Homo sapiens: one gene and its partners. The protein of the gene in region 3 interacts with the protein of the main gene of each other region in a pairwise test. Each region holds a gene or a part of one and is shown on either strand. Other genes may lie near its edges. The genes, in order: TMEM11, PLPP6 and TMEM106C.

Region 1 (3,748 bases), on a different chromosome or scaffold from region 3:
CAAGCCAAAACAAAAACAATTCTCAGCATCTATTTTCTTAGATCAATAAAAGCTTAACCTGTGCTGGCAAGGCTCCTGTTCCCTGCCTGAGGCATCCCTATTCGGCTCTTTTCAGATGCTTTTAGTCCAACAAGAGGGCGTATGTTTCTAATACTTTGTTTTCTAAACAGGTTATTTCGTATTACTGTTTGCATTGAATATCTTGAAAATGTTTGCTAGTTTTTAAGAGCATCTGAAAACCATTGAGGTAACTTATTTAAATGGTCCAATCTAATACCAGGCGGGAGTTAGAAAAACAAAAGTGTGTTTACCACTGCTTTTCCAAGGAAGAGGAAATGCAGAATGGGCAACGCTGGATAACTGGGCTAAAGAATAAAGTGCAAGCAAGCTAAAGGATTCTATCACAACTGCCAAACAGGAAGAATCTTCCCAGCTGGGAAAGCCATCTGCAAGCAATAGCAATGAACACGGGATGGAATCAGTCACAGAAAAGGAATAATGCAGAGTAGTTGAGAGGAAGATAACTTTTCTGTTAGACAATCCTCACCAAAAAGACGGGGAGGGGGAGAACCAGCAAAACAAAAACTTTTCCTTTTTTGCTGACCGCTGCTATAACAATCAAGCTTTAGCGGACAGTTAATCCAGGTGGCTCCACCAATACATCTTCTCCCAAATTTCTAGTGGCTGAACAGCTTCTAGTGGTTTCCACTAGCTGAAACTGCTTCCCAGATGCAAAAACTGCAACTTGAACATGAAACACGGAAACTACTCCAATCTCATCTTCTAGAAATCAGTTATTCAAATGGAGGTCCCTGTTGGAAGAAACACGCTCCTAGCTCCCTGCCCACACACCATTCATTAGGAAAGGTCACTTTAAAGGACTTCTACGGCAGGAGCGCTTGCACAGAACCATCCAAAAGTCTTCAGAATCTTCCCTCGAGGAAGTGGCCGGCTCTGGGCTCGGAAGAGACACATCTGGCGGGAGCTAAAGCTCCCTAGTAAACGTGCAGATCAAACTACCCCTGCCGCGGCCGGCCTGCTCTGTGAAGGCTTCCCCTTCTTTCTCTCTCCGGGGGCCCTGCCTTCCTCTACACGTCTGGGGCCGCGGCCGAGATGGCCACGCGCGTGCCCAGGCGGGAAGGGTGCTTCAGCAGCCGATCGGCCCGCGGGCAGCTAGGCGGGTCCCTGAGGCCTGCGCTGGGCGCCAGTTCCTTTCAGCACGGCCCGGCCTCGGGCCCCGCCCCGCATGGCCGCTGCCTACCTTACTCAGCCCGGCTAACGCCCCTTCCCCTAAGCTCTCCGCCGAGGCCTTCGACCTCGCTCCCACCCGGATCCCGGATCCTCCGGAACTGGAACCCAGTATGCCCGGCGAGGGTAGGGGGAGCGCGGGGAAACCAGGGAAGGAAGGCTGCTGCAGCCCTCGGAGGCCGCGCTGGGCTCTCCGGCCGCTGAGCCGCCTGCACTGGGGGCAACAAGCCCTTGGATCTCACCTCTCTCGGGCGCTGCCGCCACTGCTGCCCGGGCCAAGACGCCTCCTTCCCCAAGCGGCCATCTTGGAGACACTCTGCTTGCCAACGTCTCGCGCCAAGGCGGCATCGGGAGAGCAGGCGGGCCGACGGGAAGTGTAGTCCGGCCTGCGGTCCGGGGCCGCTCGGCAGGCGGAAGCCAGACCCGGCGGAACTACCGTGCCCACAAGGCAGCGCGCCGGAAGCCCCGCCCCCGGGGTCGCCGGGGCCCGTAGTCCTTCTGCGAGGGCGCGAGGACTCCAGGAGCCGTCCTGGTTCGAGCATTTCTGAAGAAACTGAGTTCCCGGCGTTCGCAGCCTGGGAGTCACAGGCGCCCACCCACCGGTAGGTCCTTGAGTTTCGAGAGCCAGTAGCTGAAGGAGAGAGGAGAGGCAAGTGCCTACAACTCCCAGAGCACTGCGCGGAGGCGCCCGGCCGCGCTGTCCTGGCCGCCAGGCTGCCTCTCCCGCTGGGGGCCGCCGCGCTGTCTGCGGGCTACTAGCGCCGGGCCCCTCCGCGTCGCCACGCCTGCCCTTCACAGCCTTGGCCCATAAGGTCACCGAGGGGCGGGAGGCGCCGCCCGGGCCCTCCTTGGAGGCGGGCGCTGCTCCCGCACCATCCTCCCCCAGTTCTCTTAGACTCCGGGGTACTTTGGAGGCCGAGACAGACACGCTGTCCCTGCTGCCACGGAGGTCCCTGCTTGCAGGTGCAGGCTGTTAGAGGAGAGGGTCTGAAAACAAGAAAGGGGAATAGCTGTATGATAACTGCTTGAAGGCGAGAGGGCCCAGCGACAGCTCTGTTTTAGACAGGGCCTCCAGGCCTCTTAGACTCAGTCCCTGCCACGCACCCACTCCTGCCCTGGCCGCTGCGACGGCATAATCTCGGGATCTTTGAAGGCAGATGCGGGGCTAAACCATCCCACCTGACGGGAACCCTGCCACAGGACCCGACATATCCCTGTCTGGACACTGCTGTAACGAGTCAAAGTCAGGAAGGACTAACTGGAGCCCAGAGATTCCCAGGTGCTGCTGCCTCAGACCTGTGGACTCTTTGGAGGATCTCTTACAGTTTGTGAACTTCTCAGTTCCTCTACTGCTCCCACAGACAACGTTGCTAAACATATTAATTGGTCCCATAAATACTTGAGCAAAACAAATGCGAAAATCTGTCCCGAATTCAGCCTAGAAGAAGCCCAGCCCTGCGCGTCACACTTCTGTGTAGTGGAACCCCCCTTCCCACCCCGCCGCAGGCCACAGCAGGAGGGCCAGCAGACGGAAAGGCGACCCTCTCCTTGTTGAGGATTCCTTTCGATTTCCTTCCAGCTGACATTCTACCACAGTTTTAGCTGCTTGCAATCCTCTCACCGTCCCTCATCACCTACAGTGTGTGATTCAAATTCCTTAGCACAATCAAGAAGCCCCTCCTTAGTTTGGAAGTTGCCTAGCTCTCCAAATTCAACTGCCTACCTTTCCCGTCTGGAACTTGCCAGGCTAGTAAATTCAGAGGGTTTGCAGATACGTAGATGTTCTATGCTTTACCTAAAATGCTTTTACCTCCCAGCCAACTTTTTTTTTTTTTTTTGAGACAGAGTCTTGCTCTGTCGCCCAGGCTTGAGTGCAGTGGTGCGATCTTGGCTCACTGCAACCTCCGCCTCCCAGGTTCAAGCAATTCTCCTACCTCAGCCTCCTGAGTACCTGGGATTACAGGTGGTGCCACCACACCCAGCTAATTTTTGTATTTTTAGTAGAGACGGGGTTTCACCATGTTGGTCAGGCTGGTGTCCAACTCCTGACCTCATGATCCATCCCCCTCAGCCTCCCAAAGTGCTGGGATTTACAGGCATGAGCCACGGTGCCCAGCTCTCCCAGCCAACTTTTGTCCTTCAAGACCTTGTACCTGTCTGGTCTCTAAAAAGTACCTGGCCTTCCTGTTGAGTCATACAGCCCTGCCTCCAAGTGTCAGCGTAGTTCATGCTGGAGACCTCTTAACAGTTCCATGGTATGACACTGCGGATATGGCTGTCTTTTCTTTGTATCAGTGTGGTGATTCAGAGGGTATACTAGGGATTCTAGAACGCACTTCTGGCTCAGGGGCTGCTTGTGTAACTTCTGTTTCTCAGCTGCCTGGTTTGTATCATGGGATGATAGTATCTCCCCTCAGAGGATTGCGGTATTTCATGAGGTGATACGTGTATGGAGGCCAAGTGCTGTTTTATATTTTAAGTGATCTACATCTTGATTTTC
Region 2 (3,748 bases), on a different chromosome or scaffold from region 3:
TCTAATTAAACTAAAGAGCTTCTGCACAGCAAAAGAAACTACCATTAGAGTGAACAGGCAACCTACAGAAAGGGAGGAAATTTTTGCAATCTACTCATCTGACAAAAGGGTTAATATCCAGAATCTACAAAGAACTTAAACAAATTTACAAGAAAAAATCAAAAAACCCCATCAAAAAGTGGGTGAAGGACATGAACAGACACTTCTCAAAAGAAGACATTTACACAGCCAACAGACACATGAAAAAATACTCATCATCACTGGTCATCAGAGAAATACAAATCAAAACCACAATGAGATACCATCTCACACAGTTAGAATGGCGATCATTAAAAAGTCAGGAAACAACAGGTGCTGGAGAGAATGTGGAGAAACAGGAACACCTTTACACTGTTGGTGGGACAGTAAACTAGTTCAACCCATGTGGAAGACAGTGTGGTGATTCCTCAAGGATCTAGAACTAGAAATACCATTTGACCCAGCCATCCCATTACTGGGTATATACCCAAAGGATTATAAATCATGCTACTATAAAGACACATGCACACGTATGTTTATTGCAGCACTATTCACAATAGCAAAGACTTGGAACCAACCCAAATGTCCATCAGTGATAGACTGGATTAAGAAAATGTGGCACATATACACCGTGGAATACTATGCAGCCATAAAAAAGGATGAGTTCGTGTCCTTTGTAGGGACATGGATGAAGCTGGAAACCATCATTCTCAGCAAACTATCACAAGGACAGAAAACCAAACACCGCATGTTCTCACTGATAGGTGGGAATTGAACAATGACAACACTTGGACACAGGGTGGGGAACATCACACACAGGGGCCTGTCGTGGGGTGGGGGGAATGAGTTAATGGGTGCAGCACACCAACATGGCACATGTATACATATATAACAAACCAGCACGTTGTGCATATGTACCCTAGAACTTAAAGTATAATTTTTTTAAAAAAATGTGACATGCTCTACTCTGTAGCCTTCCTTCTCCCCAGATCTCCCTCAATGACATTGTTTGGGGCAAAATCATTAGACTTATTAAGGTTAAAATTGATTCCATCTCCAAATTCCAAAACAAAAATGTTAAGAGATTGTCAGTGATGACATAGTAATAACATCAATATTCTATGAATAGTTTAGTGTGAAGAAGGCTGGTAATGTTTTGACTATTTATATCACCATGTTATTCACCAGAATGGAATCTAGCCTTTATCACTGTAGCTAAATAATCTAGGTATGATCTGAGGAAACAGTAAATCTGAACAGCCTTTTTGTTACAGGATTTTAGTTACAGGATTTAACTAATTTCATTATTTTTTTTTCGCTATTTTTCTTGGTCTAACACAGTTTTTTCTAAGGTCCACAGTTTATTAATAATCCCTTTCGTAAATGTAATGCAATTACCTCTAACACCTCCAAAAACATTCAGAAATGCTCTCTTTGCTCCAGTTAAAAAAATGCCATGGGAGTTCCAAGAATAGGAAACATCAACCAGGGTATTTAGCACTAGATTGACAGAACTTGGCTCAGACCTGCATTACAAAAGCAAGTGTTCCGACTGCGGTTTTGCATTGTGCTGAAGTGCTTTCGGATAATTTTTTTAAAAATGAAATTTACCAAATAATGCTGTAAGAACTCTGTTCTTTATAAGAACTCTCAGGTTATCTTCAGACAACAAAAGCCAATGAGAAAGTCAAGATCACCTTTTCAAATCTCATGCTCTCCTGAATCATAATGGGGAACGCAGAGGGAAAGCTGTTGGTCTCCAGGTACTGATTCATGAGGTAGACCCCGAGGTACACATCTTGTTTGCCAGGCAGGAACACTCCTGGGCAAGAAATCTTAAAAAGAAAGAAAACAACAAACAAGGGAGAGAAAACAGACTTTGCTTTGTTTTGTTACACGGGGCTCTATTTCTCTTAAGCTCCTACAGACACTGACATTTTCCCCATCACCTCACTCCCTCACCTGTACCTCCCAACGCCAACATCCTCCCCTCTGCTCTCCTCACATTGGAAATTCCAACTCCCTCCCACGTCTCCACCAGGTGTCACAATCGCGCTCTCGCCGGCTCCTCTCCCCGCCCCTCCGGGATGGTAGTGCGGAAGCGGAAGAGGCTGCAGGGCCGGGAAGCCTCTGTTTGGTCCGGCCAGGTCCCGGGATCCGGGCCGCCAGCTGCGATGCCAAGTCCCCGGAGGAGCATGGAGGGACGGCCGCTGGGCGTCTCCGCTTCGAGCAGCAGCAGCAGCCCCGGCAGCCCAGCCCATGGCGGCGGTGGCGGCGGCAGCAGGTTTGAGTTCCAGTCCCTGCTCAGCAGCCGCGCCACGGCCGTGGACCCCACCTGCGCCCGGCTCCGTGCATCGGAGAGCCCAGTTCACCGCCGCGGCTCCTTCCCCCTGGCCGCGGCGGGCCCCTCGCAGTCGCCCGCGCCTCCGCTGCCCGAGGAGGACCGCATGGACTTGAACCCGTCCTTCCTGGGCATCGCCCTGCGCTCCCTGCTGGCCATCGACCTGTGGCTGTCCAAGAAGCTGGGGGTGTGCGCGGGAGAGAGCTCGTCGTGGGGCAGCGTGCGACCCCTTATGAAGCTGCTGGAGATCTCGGGACACGGCATCCCCTGGCTGCTGGGCACCCTCTACTGCCTGTGCAGGAGCGACAGCTGGGCCGGGCGCGAGGTGCTGATGAACCTGCTCTTCGCCCTGCTGTTGGACCTGCTGCTGGTGGCCTTGATCAAAGGGCTGGTCCGCAGGCGCCGCCCGGCCCACAACCAGATGGACATGTTTGTCACTCTCTCGGTGGACAAGTACTCCTTCCCCTCGGGCCATGCCACAAGGGCCGCCCTGATGTCGAGGTTCATCCTGAACCACCTGGTGCTGGCCATTCCACTGAGGGTGCTGGTGGTTCTGTGGGCCTTCGTCTTGGGCCTATCCAGGGTCATGCTGGGGCGGCACAATGTCACCGACGTAGCTTTTGGCTTTTTTCTGGGCTACATGCAGTACAGCATCGTGGACTATTGCTGGCTCTCACCCCATAATGCTCCGGTCCTCTTTTTACTGTGGAGTCAACGATGACACCATCTCATTGATTATGGCACCAGGAAGTCTGAAGGTTTCCACATTCGATGATGTCAACCTAAACCAGCAGCCATCCCGCTTGTCCCTCTTAGGCATTTCAGGCTTCCTTTGGGATTTCAGGTGTCCCATGATCTTGATGTGCTGCTAGGCTGGAGCACACACTGGCCATTACTGAACACAGCCATATTAGGGAAAGCAAAAAAACCCAAAAAATCCTCTATTGTATATTTATTCAACAACTGTTTATGTTTCCAGGACAACTGCAAAGAAAACAAGCTGAGGTGGTTATACTGTTGCTGTTAAAAGTTGGTATCAGTAAGATTTGTGTTTTGTGATAATCCCTAAATCAACATACCACTTGTAAACTGAACTTCGAGAAAGAAACATGATGTTCATTCTGTAAATATACATGCAGACAGGTCATGTACTAATCCTAGTCCTTTTCCTGAGGTAGATTTTAAACAGTATTTTTAAAGTCCAAGACATAGGTTTTTCTAGTTTATTCCCTGAAGATCTGTTGCCACAGTTGGGAGATTTCTTCTTAATCCTGATTTTCTTGGTAAGCTTTTTTACTTTATTATCTCTATAATTTATTATCTCTATCCATATTTGTGGATCGGGTAGTGGGAAAAGAGATTATAATACTTGTCTTTCTCTCCTCTCCC
Region 3 (3,748 bases):
AAGATTAAACACAAAACCAGGAAAGAGAAGGGAGCTGAAAGGGAAGTTCCAAGAGCCAGGAACCATAAACCAGTTAAGAAGCAGTGAAGCAGGAGAAACCTTTTAAAACTCCTTTAAACACTGTTTGCACTCTGGGAAGAAAAGCTGAAGAAAGGAGCTATGTGGACAGAGACAGTCCCACACCTCCCAGAACACTCCACTTTCCCAGTTTCTTCTGATTCCATTCCTTGACCTTCAAAGCATTTCCAGCTTCAAGTTTCTTTCCCCAGATTGTGATGGGGGCAGAGATATCTTGCTTGGGCAAACAGTTATAAGGAAAATGGGGAACTTATAAGAACATGTGTAGTTTTCAAAGAATTAACTGGCATTCATACATACAGAAAGAGATTAGGGACAGAAGTAGGTATTAACAGGTGAGAAGCAGGTAACTCACGTTCGCTGAGGGCGCAATCTCTGATCACTGTGTGGGATCAAAGCCACCAACTCATTTACTTGCTCTAGAAAAGAGCCAAACAATTATTTTGTAAATCCCATGTGTTGGCAGTACTTCCTTCACGTCTCACTTGAGCCTGCCACAACAAATATTCTTCTGGAATGAGACATTTTAAAAAATACTAGTGAAATTCACATGTTGGGTCTAATGAACAAGAAACAAGAGAGTGCCACAAATTATAAAACATCTATCAGTGCTGCCAGGGTAGTGATGTGGAAGTTGAAAAACCTGGGATCCTGTTCTGGCTTTACTGCATGGGCTTGGCAGAGTCGTCGAATCTCTCAAGGCCATGGTTTCCTTGCCTTTCATATGGAAGCTTTGGAGTAAATGATTTTGAAGGTCCTAACCAGCTCTAAATTTCTGTGACTCTCCAGCTAAACTGTTAAAGACTTTCTGAGGGCCAATTTGTTAATAGTAATAGATGATCCTGTACCAAGGCTAAGTATTTGTCTCTCTCTCTTGACCTGATATATTTTTCTGACCTTAGGCTGTTAAGGATTAGCTACCCATTTCCTTGAAAAGCAGCTTCCAAGATGGTTCCCCCGCAAAGCTGTCCCAATCCTTGTGACAGCGATAAAGAAATGTGCCTGTCAACAAATCCCACAACACAGAGCGAACTGAATGTTCCAAACCTCAGGAAAAGAACAAGAGTGGCGGTAAAGAAAAGAAAGGGTTGGAAAAATAAGGAGAGGAAGAGAAGTTGCAGAACTGCCCAAGTGTATTAAGTCAGTTGAGCTGGCTCCTGTCCAGGGCACTGTCTCTATTATGGTATTACTGCCTAGAAGAAAAGTTGTCTGGGCAGACAGGAGAACTCCGAGGGTACCTTGGGATTCTCATCAGGGAATCATCCCTCCATGATCACCTGTTGGAATGTAGCCTGTCCCCTGGCACGTGAGACAGGTGATGCTATCTCTCCCGGTGAATTCCACATATGGGAACTGAGCAATGGCTTCTTCCTGCTCTCGTTCAGCCAGCAAACCGTCCCTGTCATCTTCTTGCTTTCGCCTGCAGGAGGAGGGGCGAGCAGCAGCGGAATGCTGAGACCCCATGGCCGTGATATGCCACTGGTGTCATGTCCTAAGATGAAAAGAGGGAGTGCACGTTAGCGGCCCCAGTGAATCACGACAGAAATCGCTTGTTTCTATAAGAAAATTAAAAACGCAAAAATGACAAGTTGCCGCCCTGAGTGTGGTCCCAACACCTGTACGATTTCTATCGGGACCCTCATTTTGTAGTAGTGCTACCCACTCTCCTCTTACCCGCCACACACAGCCGGCGGGGGTGGGGAGGGGGAACGGGGCCTGCCTTTCACGCACCTGCCTCGATCCTCACCGCCCTGGGACTTGGGGCACCCCCGCTCCCACCTGGTCCAGCCTCGCCCCTTCCTCTTCACTATTTGTAAGCTCTATGCCCCTCCTCGAGCAACAAACAGGCACCAAATTGATAACCGGCCTTAACGATTCCCATTCCTCTCCACCCCCCAGCCCCAGGAGGCGGGCTCAGGTCACGCCCCTTGGCAAAAAGCGATGCTCTGAGCCCACCAAAGTGGCCCAGGCAGGAGCGAACGCCAGCGTCGCAGACCTGCAGGGCACGAACTCCCGGCAGCTCCTCTCCGGCCGCTCCCCCGACCACCTGCCAGCTTGAGGACTTACCAGCCTCTTCGGTCGGCGGAGCGGCACGCACTCAGCGCGCAGGCGCCAAATACCAAGCCCGCCAGGAGAACGCGGGCGCGCGCTCGCGCGTGCGCTCTTCGCGGCTCCGGAGGCCTTCCCAATATCGCAGCTGTCTGGCTCCCTCGGTTCCGGTAGAGGGCGGCAGAGAGCGCCGGGGAGCCGCGACCCTTGCTGTTGGGCCGCGGTAGTCCGCGGAGTCGGGATGATGCTCTGCTGTTCGCTAGATAGGCTGGGAAAGGCTCCAGTCAAGTTTCCAGAGCAAAACACTTCTCTGCTGCGAGAGGAGGAAGGTGCTGCCGGCTACCGAAGCCATTCTGAAATATTCTTTATAGTACAGGAGCTGTGTAGTCGCTGAGGGTACACACATGCGGAGCATTCGGATAAACTGCCTTTGCAAAAATTGTAAGTGAGAAAATTATGACAGTGAAAGAGATCTGACTTACCCAGTTCCGTCTTGCTTCTAACCTCCGAACTGCCCTTGTTCATTCCTGGGTATAGGCCAAACTAACTTTGGGAGGAATTTAGTTTATAGTTGAACTTCGAAGCAAAGATAACAGCCCTTCCCCAAAACAAACCCCCTTCTTGCCTGGGGACCAGACTGCCTTTGTAAGACTAACAAATTAGCCACAAGATTAGAAATTATGGTTTAGGAGTCATCCAGACAGAGGTCACAAGATTCCAAACCTTCCCTATTGCTCCAAGGGATAACATCACTATTGTAAAATCTAAGATCGGTGCTGGGGATATTTTTCAGACCCTGCATTCTGAGGCACCAGCTGGCAGTACCTAGACCAGTTATCTGGCTCAGCCAGTTCTGCAATCCCACCCAGGAACAGAAAACAGCAAGAAGAACCCACTTAGACCCCCCTATGATTTCATCTCCAACCTGACCAATCAGCACTCCCCACTGCCTGATACCTACCAGCCGAATTATCCTTAAAAAACCCCAGTCTCTGAATTATCGGGGAGACTTATTTGAGTGATAAAACTCTGGTATCTCATTCAGCCGGCTCTGCATGAATTAAAATCTCCATTGCAATTCCCCTGTCTTGATGAATCAGCTCTGGGCAACGGGCAAGGAGAACCCGTCCGGCAATTATATCAGAACCTGTCTTCAGTCCAGGAGGGGAACCCAGAGGCTTCATCAGACCCCTCCAATACTGTAGATAAAAGTGCTGCTGGAAGTCTCACAAGTCAGAGGGGCCCAGCCTGGGGGAAACCTTCCATGGGGAGTCCTGCTGGCTTCTCGCAGGAACGGACCCCACAGCTGAGCTTTGCAAGCCAATTAGGTGCCAAGAGGCACCAAGGAGTAGATTCATTCGGTAGTAGGGCCCCCCCTTCCCCAGACCTCCACAAAAAAGGCACGTACGTAAGAGGTTAGAAAGCACTTTTCGTTCGTTTGTTTGTTTGTTCGTTTGTTTTGAGATGGAGTCTTGCTCTGTCGACCAGGCTGGAGTACAGTGGCACAGTCTCAGCTCACTGCAACCTCCGCCTCCCGGGTTCAAGCGATTCTCCTGCCTCAGCCTCACAAGTAGCTGGGATTACAGGCGCACACCTCCACACCTGGCTAATTTTTGTATTT

Evidence for each region.
Region 1: the proteins of TMEM106C (region 3) and TMEM11 interact in binary tests that used the Homo sapiens proteins (3 or more experiments, as listed by UniProt).
Region 2: the proteins of TMEM106C (region 3) and PLPP6 interact in binary tests that used the Homo sapiens proteins (3 or more experiments, as listed by UniProt).

What each region holds. Positions count from the first base shown.
Region 1 is NC_000017.11:21,212,601-21,216,348, forward strand, and holds the start of TMEM11 (transmembrane protein 11, mitochondrial), read right to left. Parts: upstream 1,562-3,748; 5' UTR 1,553-1,561; coding exon 1,491-1,552; intron 1-1,490. UniProt on the Homo sapiens protein: Plays a role in mitochondrial morphogenesis.
Region 2 is NC_000009.12:4,660,184-4,663,931, forward strand, and holds the start of PLPP6 (polyisoprenoid diphosphate/phosphate phosphohydrolase PLPP6), read left to right. Parts: upstream 1-2,110; 5' UTR 2,111-2,192; coding exon 2,193-3,080; 3' UTR 3,081-3,748. Other genes in the region: SPATA6L (spermatogenesis associated 6-like protein), read right to left, coding at 1,716-1,853. UniProt on the Homo sapiens protein: Magnesium-independent polyisoprenoid diphosphatase that catalyzes the sequential dephosphorylation of presqualene, farnesyl, geranyl and geranylgeranyl diphosphates.
Region 3 is NC_000012.12:47,962,031-47,965,778, reverse strand, and holds the start of TMEM106C (transmembrane protein 106C), read right to left. Parts: upstream 2,184-3,748; 5' UTR 2,075-2,183; intron 1,982-2,074; exon of another isoform or gene 1,810-1,981; intron 1,571-1,809; 5' UTR 1,543-1,570; coding exon 1,356-1,542; intron 498-1,355; coding exon 434-497; intron 1-433.